Linked DNA regions of Homo sapiens. The protein of the gene in region 1 purifies or fractionates together with the protein of each later gene. This does not show direct contact. Each region holds a gene or a part of one and is shown in the gene's direction. Other genes may lie near its edges.

What was found.
Region 2: the proteins of CDH4 (region 1) and SPSB4 purify together in Homo sapiens (co-immunoprecipitation; one large-scale study listed by IntAct). This does not show direct contact.

The regions. Positions count from the first base shown.
Region 1 is NC_000020.11:61,926,588-61,931,551, forward strand, and holds part of CDH4 (cadherin-4 isoform 1 preproprotein), read left to right. Parts: intron 1-1,602; coding exon 1,603-1,836; intron 1,837-3,021; coding exon 3,022-3,255; intron 3,256-4,964. UniProt on the Homo sapiens protein: Cadherins are calcium-dependent cell adhesion proteins. They preferentially interact with themselves in a homophilic manner in connecting cells; cadherins may thus contribute to the sorting of heterogeneous cell types.
Region 2 is NC_000003.12:141,054,347-141,057,846, forward strand, and holds part of SPSB4 (SPRY domain-containing SOCS box protein 4), read left to right. Parts: intron 1-3,500. UniProt on the Homo sapiens protein: Substrate recognition component of a SCF-like ECS (Elongin BC-CUL2/5-SOCS-box protein) E3 ubiquitin-protein ligase complex which mediates the ubiquitination and subsequent proteasomal degradation of target proteins.

The DNA.
Region 1 (4,964 bases):
CCGGGCCAGGCCCCGTGGCTCACACCTGTAATCCCAACACTTTGGGAGGCCGAGGCAGGTGGATCATGAGGTCAGGAGTTCAAGACCAGCCTGGCCAACATGGTGAAACCCCGTCTTTACTAAAAAAATACAAAAATTAGCTAGGCATGGTGGTGCACGCCTGTAATCCCAGCTATTCGGGAGGCTGAGGCAGGAGAATCACTTGAACCTGGGAGGCAGAGGTTGCAGTGAGCCAAGATCGCCCCATTGAACTCAAGCCTGGGCAATAGAGTGAGACTCCATCTCAAAAAAGAAAAAAAAGAAAGAAAGTGATTGTGAGGCCGCAGCTGGAACATCGGAGCGTCCATCGCACGTGGCAGACGCCGTGTGAGGGAGCCGGGGTGCACAGGCTGGAGCAGGAGCCCCCCGGTTAACAGAACCTGTCTGTGCTTCTCCGATCACGTGCCGTGCCATCAGCTACATCTCAAAGCAGTTTTCAAAGGTAGCGCCGCGCTGCGTCACCTTAAATGTGTTTTGACGCAGCTTCCGGAAGATTAAAGAGACATCCGTGGGATACATTTTTACATGGTTCGCCTGCCTCAGTCAAAACACGTGGTTGTTAACGTCAGGTCAGGAGCTGCCATCAGGAGCAAAGCTACAGTCAGAACATGCCGCCACCACCGCCGCCTCCAAGCCTGGAGAGCAGACAGGGCATCTCTCTGTCCCCAGATTCCAGCCACCTGGCCTGCATCCTGGGCTGAGGCAAGGACTGAGCATGTGAAGACCCCAGGGACAGGGATGGCCCCTGAGGAGCTCTGGGGGCTCGGCAGAGCACCTCCGTTCATGCTGAAGCCAGAGGTCATCGGGTCCTCCAAGGAGACCTCCTGCCGGGCCAGGAGGGAGCTTCCATCAAAGCTCATCTGGAGCGGCCGCGCCTGCTTTTCTCACAGACACTTCCAAAAGCAGCAGTTCTTCCACGCGATCATGCGTCTGGGCTCAGGGCTTCCAGCACCCTGGGGCTCTGCTGGGCAGGGCCAGCAAAACTCAGGGAGGCAAGGAAAGGTTTTGCCCTAAGAAGTCCCAGATGGGGGCAAGATGTGGTGGGCGGATCCCAGCCCTCAGGGGCCAGTGCAGAGCCCAGCACCCGCAGAACCCCTCCCTGGCTCCCCAGTGGGAGTGAGTCCCCGGTGCGTGGCTGTGACCTCCGTGGCTGTGAGTTTCCACGTGAATGCCACACCCCGCTGTGTGCGTGTGTGCAGGTGTGGGTGTGGCCGTGTGCTCTGCCGTGTCTGTTGAGGTGCCGTGCGCAGTGGCTGTGTGCGTGTGTGCAGCTGCGGGTGTGGGTGTGGCCGTGTGCTTTGCCGTGTCTGTTGAGGTGCCGTACGCAGTGGTGTGGCTGCCCATGGCGTGTGGCAGGGTGTCGGTCAGGAGCCATGGCTGGACTGTGGGTCAGTCCCTGTGCAGCTGTGTTGGGAGATGGCCGGCCGTGTCCGGCTGGGGGTCTGCACATGTGTCCCTGTGTATGTTGCACGTGGTTGTTTGTGTGCGTGTCCTGTGTGGAGCTGTGGGTTGGTCATGGAGTACCAGGAGTGGCCCGTGTGGTGACCTGTGTCTGTTCCACAGGGATACCCCCGGCCAGCGGCACCGGGACCCTCCAGATCTATCTCATTGACATCAACGACAACGCCCCTGAGCTGCTGCCCAAGGAGGCGCAGATCTGCGAGAAGCCCAACCTGAACGCCATCAACATCACGGCGGCCGACGCTGACGTCGACCCCAACATCGGCCCCTACGTCTTCGAGCTGCCCTTTGTCCCGGCGGCCGTGCGGAAGAACTGGACCATCACCCGCCTGAACGGTGAGCCCGCCTTAGGCCACGGGGAGGGTCAGACTAGCCTGGGGTGCAGGCCCCTGGGAGACCCAGCTGGCCTTGGAAGAGTGGGCACCAGAGGTGGGTGACAGTCCTCCAACAGGACTGTCCCACCAAGGCTGGGGACACTGGCCACGCTTCAGCTGCTCAGCCTCCTTCACCTGGCCTTGAGGAGGCCACCAAGTCATTCCCAATTTCTTGCTGCTTTAATGAGGCCAGCCGTGAACATCCTTGCAGCTCTGCCCATGTACATCCATGACAACTTCCTGTGCCGGTTGTCAGTTGACTGGACCCTGACTGATATGTTTCCTTAGAATACTTCCCTGGATGCAGATCTGTGGTATAAAAGGATATCAAAATTCTCAAGTTTTGGCAGTACTGTGAAAATGTGCTCTAAACATGTCTACTTCCATCGGGAGAGTGCCTGTTTGTTTCCTCAAACCCCACCAACACTGAACATTATTGTTTTAAAATAATATTTTATTCTGCCACCTTTAGGCCAAAGTCATTATTTCCATTTGTATATCCTGATTACCAGTGGAAATTTTTTATATATATTTATTGGCCATTTTTGTTTCTTCTGTGAATTGTCTGTTCAATGACTTTGCCTATGTTTTCTTTGGGGAGTTTCTTTTTATTGATTTGGTAAAACTCTTTATATATTCAGGAAATTATTTCTTCATCCTACATGTTGCAATTGCTTTTTGGTTGTGTCTCCAATGTCTTTTTTTTTTTGAGACTGTTGCCCAGGCAGAAGTGCAGTGGCACAATCTCAGCTCTGCAACTCCACCTCCCAGGTTCAAGCAATTCTCCCACCTCAGGCTCCCAAGTAGCTGAGATCACAGGCTTGCACCACACGCCCGGCTAATTTTTGTATTTTTTACTAGAGACAGGGTTTTGCCATGTTGGCCAGGCTGGTCGTGAACTCCTGACTTCAAGTGATCTGCCCACCTCAGCCTCCCAAAGTGCTGGGATTACAAGCGTGAGCCACCACACCCAACCTCCAATGTCTTTTAACTTAATGATGTAGCACAGGTGTATGTATGTATGTGTGGTAACCAGGCAGCCATTTCAGATTTCCATGCCATCGGACTTTTAGTCTTTTCCTTTGGACGTCTTGCTTGGAAGCGAGGGCCGGGCTCTGGTTGAATGTTTACTGTTGCTTTGCACCAGGTGACTATGCCCAACTCAGCTTGCGCATCCTGTACCTGGAGGCCGGGATGTATGACGTCCCCATCATCGTCACAGACTCTGGAAACCCTCCCCTGTCCAACACGTCCATCATCAAAGTCAAGGTGTGCCCATGTGATGACAACGGGGACTGCACCACCATTGGCGCAGTGGCAGCGGCTGGTCTGGGCACCGGTGCCATCGTGGCCATCCTCATCTGCATCCTCATCCTGCTGAGTGAGTGTGGCTGAGCACCAGGGTGGGCAGGGGCATTGTGGGTATGAGTGCCCTGTCCCAGGCATGGTGGGCAGAGGGGGGCCTGGATTTGCCCCTCAGCCCTCATCTCTCAGCCTCATCTGTCAGGAGCCTTTCAGAAATGCAGCTGAACTGGTCCATATGACAATGGGAAATTGGAGCCTCCCGTTACTCTCAAGTCTGGAGGTGCAGGCCGGCCCAGGTGTCTCCCATGGCCTGGCCCCTTTCCACGGCTCCACTCTGCCTCCCAGAGCCCCTGTGTCCTGAAGCTGTTGCCCTCCAGGACCTGTGACGCCTGTGGGCAGCTCCCAGGTGGACTTAGCAGAGGGAAGGTCAGCCCTGCCTGTTAGCGTCCCCATCCAAAGTCCCAGGACACTCTCTGATTGGACTGGCTTGGGTCACATGCACACCTTGGAGCCAATCACCAGCCAAGCAATGGAGTGTTCTCACTGGCTCTGCCCAGATCACATGCTCTAGTAGTTTCTTGAGTTTCCCACAACCACTGTGGGTTCCCAACAGGTCTGAGGGCTGGCGGGGGGGCGGTGCCAGGGGAGGTGCTTGAAAATGACCCCAGAGGTCCCTCTTCCCATCATCCCTCATGGACAGTCACCGTGGTCTGTGATACCCCAGGGATCCCAGTGGGAGGCAGGGCGGGGAAGGGTTGGGCTACCACCTCCCCAGTTCACACCCAAACCACAGGGTCCCCCACCACGTCCAGAACAGGCGGCAGGCCCCTCCTGCAGACCTGGCCTGCGGCTGACTTGAGACCCCAGGGACCAACCTGAGCCCTGTCCAAAGGATGTCTGAGTTATGAGGACTCTGCTTTTTTCCCCATTTCCAGACCTATCACCCCTTGAAAAGCCGGTTTTCATTTCTGAGGCTTGTTTTGAAAGCCGTTCAGTGTCGTGGGCTTCTTTGTATGATCAGGAGTGGAAAGAGCCCCACAGAGGTTGGGAGGTGTCTCTGTAGCAAAGGTGGAGGCATTCTCACCGATGTCCCCTGCTCTGGAAACACCGGGGGCCAGGCCCCAGCCAGAGCACCCTCTGTGGGCAGGGCTGTGAGACCCAATTCAGCTGAGTGCCTGGCCCGTGCAGGAGACCTGGGCCACTCTCGAGGGCAGCCGCAGTGGAGGGCATCCGCAGTGGGGCCGGGGCCACGGTCAACAGCAGATCCGCCTGCTGCCCGGCTTCTGCCCAGTCGTGGGCACCTCAGCCCTGGTGGGGTGCATGGGGGGCACCCGGAGTGGCCTCCCCTCCTCCACACTCCTCCTCTCAACCCTCGCTCATCTTGTCTGCCTGGATGAGCCTGGGATGCCAGCTGTGAGAGTGGAGCTGACCTCTTCAAAGGTTCTTGGCCTTGTGGCTTCCGTCGAGCCAAGACTAGGCCCGGGCTCCAGGCTCCAGGTTCTCACGGAGCTGCACCTGCAGTGCGTGGCTCCTCCCTCCGCCTGCACTTCCCTCTCCACGATCTGGGCCAGGTCAGGAAGCGTCCCCCGGCTGTCACCTCACCCTCTGCAGGCAGGGCGATGCCGCCAATACCCACAGAGCTCCTCCCAAGCCTCCACTCCGCTTCGGAATCCTCCTCACGACATCAGGCAGCCACAGCCAATTAATCGGGTTGGCAAAAAACAGCCCTCCTGACTGGGGGGTCGCCGCCCCTCTCGCCTCCGGGCTCACCCTCTGCGGTACATA
Region 2 (3,500 bases), on another chromosome or scaffold:
ATAGTATGTACTCTTGATTTATGTGAACATGACCATCTGTGGTAAGAAAAGATCAACTATAAAAAATTTTTAAACCAGCAACACGTTTTTAATAAAACATGGTTCCTACATAAGCCAACTAATTTATTTGCTGCTGATCAGTTCAAGAAATAGGGATTTGTTTTGAGGCTATAGGAAAAACAGTTGTGGGTGGTGTGCCCTTTGGGAAAGAGGTGGTATACCTCAAACCAGTTATCATGAACTTTGTGTGGAACTTTAGAAGAACTTTCCTAAGCAGTGTTGATTGCATGTGATTTTTGCTTCACACATTGAGTTCAGAACTTACTCCATTTAAAATGTATACGTGTGGTGGTTCATGCCCGTAATCCCAGCACTTTGGGAGGCCGAGGCGGGGGGATCGCAAGGTCAGGAGATCGAGACTATCCTGGCTAACACAGTGAAACCCCGTCTCTACTAAAAATACAAAAAATTAGCCCGGCGTGGCGGCTTGCGCCTGTAGTCCCAGCTGCTGGGGAGGCTGAGGCAGGAGAATGGCATGAACCTGGGACGCAGAGCTTGCAGTGAGCCGAGATGGCACCACTGCACTCCAGCCTGGGCAACAGAGCGAGACTCCGTCTCAAAAAAAAAAAAAAAATGCAAACCATGCAGGAGGTATAGAGTGGCTAGTCCTTCTTCAGTCTGACAAGCACGTCTTAATGCAGCCAGAGGTAACAGGTACAAGGCTGTGTACGAGTATTGGAGATAAAGGCTGGTTGGGCACTGGCTCCATTAAGAAATGCAGATGTGGTGCAAGAGATAGCAGCAGGAATCAACAGCTAAGATGAAGACAAAGTGGGTTGGAGGGCAGAGGGTGCAGTGGGACGTAGGCAAGAGGACATAATGGGGCGGAGGGAAGAGGATGTAGTGGGCTGAGGGGCTGCCACGGAGGGGTGCCCAGTTCTGCTTCTGCTAGAAGGGGCAGGGGAGTGAGAGAATGTCAGCCAGGTCAGAGAAGATGGGAAGAGTCCCAGGATGTGCTGACGAGGAGAGTCTGGCATGACTGGTCTGAGGTGGGCCGTGATGACAGACAGTGTGGAAGAAATAAGAGCAGCCTGGAGGGCCCCTGGGTGCCAAGCAAAGAGGTGCAGCTTCTCTCTGGAGAAGCTGCCTGGAGGGTTGAATGAAGAGATTGGTGGGTGTCTTGGTCCAACTTACCTGTTGGCAGCATGGAGAGTGGGTTGGCGGGCAAACAGTGGAGTCAGGGAAGCCTGCTAAGAGACCAGTGGAGTAATCCAGGCAAGTTCTGAACTAGGGGAAAGCTGACGGGGTTGAGTGGTGGGGACCAAGAGACGGGATCCATGGCAGGAACAGTGACATGCAGAGGAACCTGGCATGTGAGAGAGGGAAGAGGCCAGGCTCAGCCTAGGACCTGCAGATTCCGAGGTGCACATGGACCACAGATGTCCCGCAGGGCTGAGAGTGTGGGTGTGCCCATGGTAGGAGGCTTATGATGGAAAGAGGTCAGCTGGCCTTACAAGGTCATTTGAAACAACACCCAGGCAGGGCTGACCAGGGGCTTCTAGTAGGTAGGTCTTGTGCTGAGGAGAGAAGGCAGCACTGGAGACCCGGCTTGAGAGTGTCTGCACGGGGCTGGAGATGCAGGTCATAAGAGAAGATGCATGGAGAGAGAGAGTGAAAAGCGGAAACTGAAGTTGAAGCAATGGACTTGGGGGTGCCCCATTGATGGGGTAGGCAGGAAGACATTGGAGCCAGGAGGAGGCAGGAAAGCTGCTGTGGTAAGCTCTACACTTCAATGTGCTGGTATGTGTGGTGGGAGACGCTGGAGCAGTGCCAAAGTCATCCATCTGACCTTTAATGTTGTGAAATGTCATGTATGGTGAACTGGAGCTCTGCTTTCTCCAGAAGTGAGTGGGCCTTGGCCCGGTTTACTGGCCACAGAGACATTCTACCTGTTATCTACCTTCAGGAGACATCTACCTGTTATCTGCATTCTATGAAATGTGCAAGTTGTACAGATTCCTGGGGCTGGAGCAGCTCCCTCCCCGATCCTGCTCCCTTTCTCCTCTCTTCCTCTCATCCTCTCTCCTTTCCTCCTTAGTATCTCAAAAATGCCCCCAGAGATACTGTAGGCTTAACAGAGGGATCTTCAGAAATCCCAGCAGGTCCCTATTATGACCTGGCTCAAGCCAGAGGCATGAATAGTTCTGCTTTTCTTTTAGGCATTCTGTTTCCAGACAACCAGTTATACCAAGTGGAGAAGGTTCATCTTGGGAGGTAAATGAGGGATTGGACGCAAACCTTATCATGTTTTCATCATCGTTTTCCCCAGAGGGCTTCATTAAATGGTACCCTTCCCATCTTCTCCCTTCATGCTTTGACCCAGCCCAGACATGCTGGGCCTCAGGGAATCCAGCTGCCCTGCAAACAACCTCCACATGTGCCTGGGGCAGGCCTCTGGGCTCAGGGGCAGCTGTGGTGACCGGGCTGGCCCGGACTGCACGTGGCCTTGCTGTCTCAGTGGTATGTCTCTTTCAAATGACCTTGCAGAGCTTGCTGCCCTGGTCACAGCCTAGCAAACCTCCTTCATCCCATTTGCTGCTCTCCTTGCTGGCTGACAGCCCAGCTTGCACCTTGGGGGCCCCTGGCTCAGTCACGCGTGGGAGGATTCCCATGGAAACCCCAGGAGGAGGAGAGGCTCAGGGAAGCCTCATTGATTCTCGCTCCAGGAAAACAGGCGTGAGATGATTCCACCTGGAACTGGACAGATGGCTCTCTTTGTGAGCTCTTGGGGAAGAAAGGGCTTGCCCAGCCAGTTGTAGCCTGAGCTCCATGTGTGTATAGCAGGGAAAAGCTAATGAATGCCTATGAACAAAACCTTGGGGGTTCTTTAGTTCATTCATTGTTGGTGGGTTCATTCTGAATGAGCATCTTTAATAAAACAGCCTCCCTACTTAATATTTGCACAAGAAAAATCTTAAAAACATTCCAGTTAAACTAAGGTCAGGCACCTATCATTGGTACCTTTGCACAGAGTCAAAAATTGAAAAATAAAGACATGAAATAAATAGTCTGAGCTCACAGTGCTCTGCATTCCCAGTTCATTCTTAAGTGTTGGTTCTTTCTAAGGCAGTGTATTGCTTTTCTTCATTTGTTCGTGCTCGTGCATTCCATAGACGTTCACCCACCACTTTCTCTAAGCCAGGTCCATGGGGACTCTGATGAGGGACACCCGGCCCCTGCTCCCAAGTTGCCCCAGTCCGATGGGAGGGAGGCAGCCAAAGAGACATCATGTCCCCTTGTGATAAGAGCTGTGGTGGGCACAAGTACAAGGGCTCTGAGAGCACAGGGGGCTGGGGAGCTCCCCAGAGGCACTAATATCTAATATCCTGAAAGCCTCAGAGAACCTGTCGAGGATTTTGAGCAGGAGCGTGATTAGATCAACTGTGTACTTTTACAAGTGCAGTAGTATATATTTGAAAGTAATATGCAGTCTATAAAGG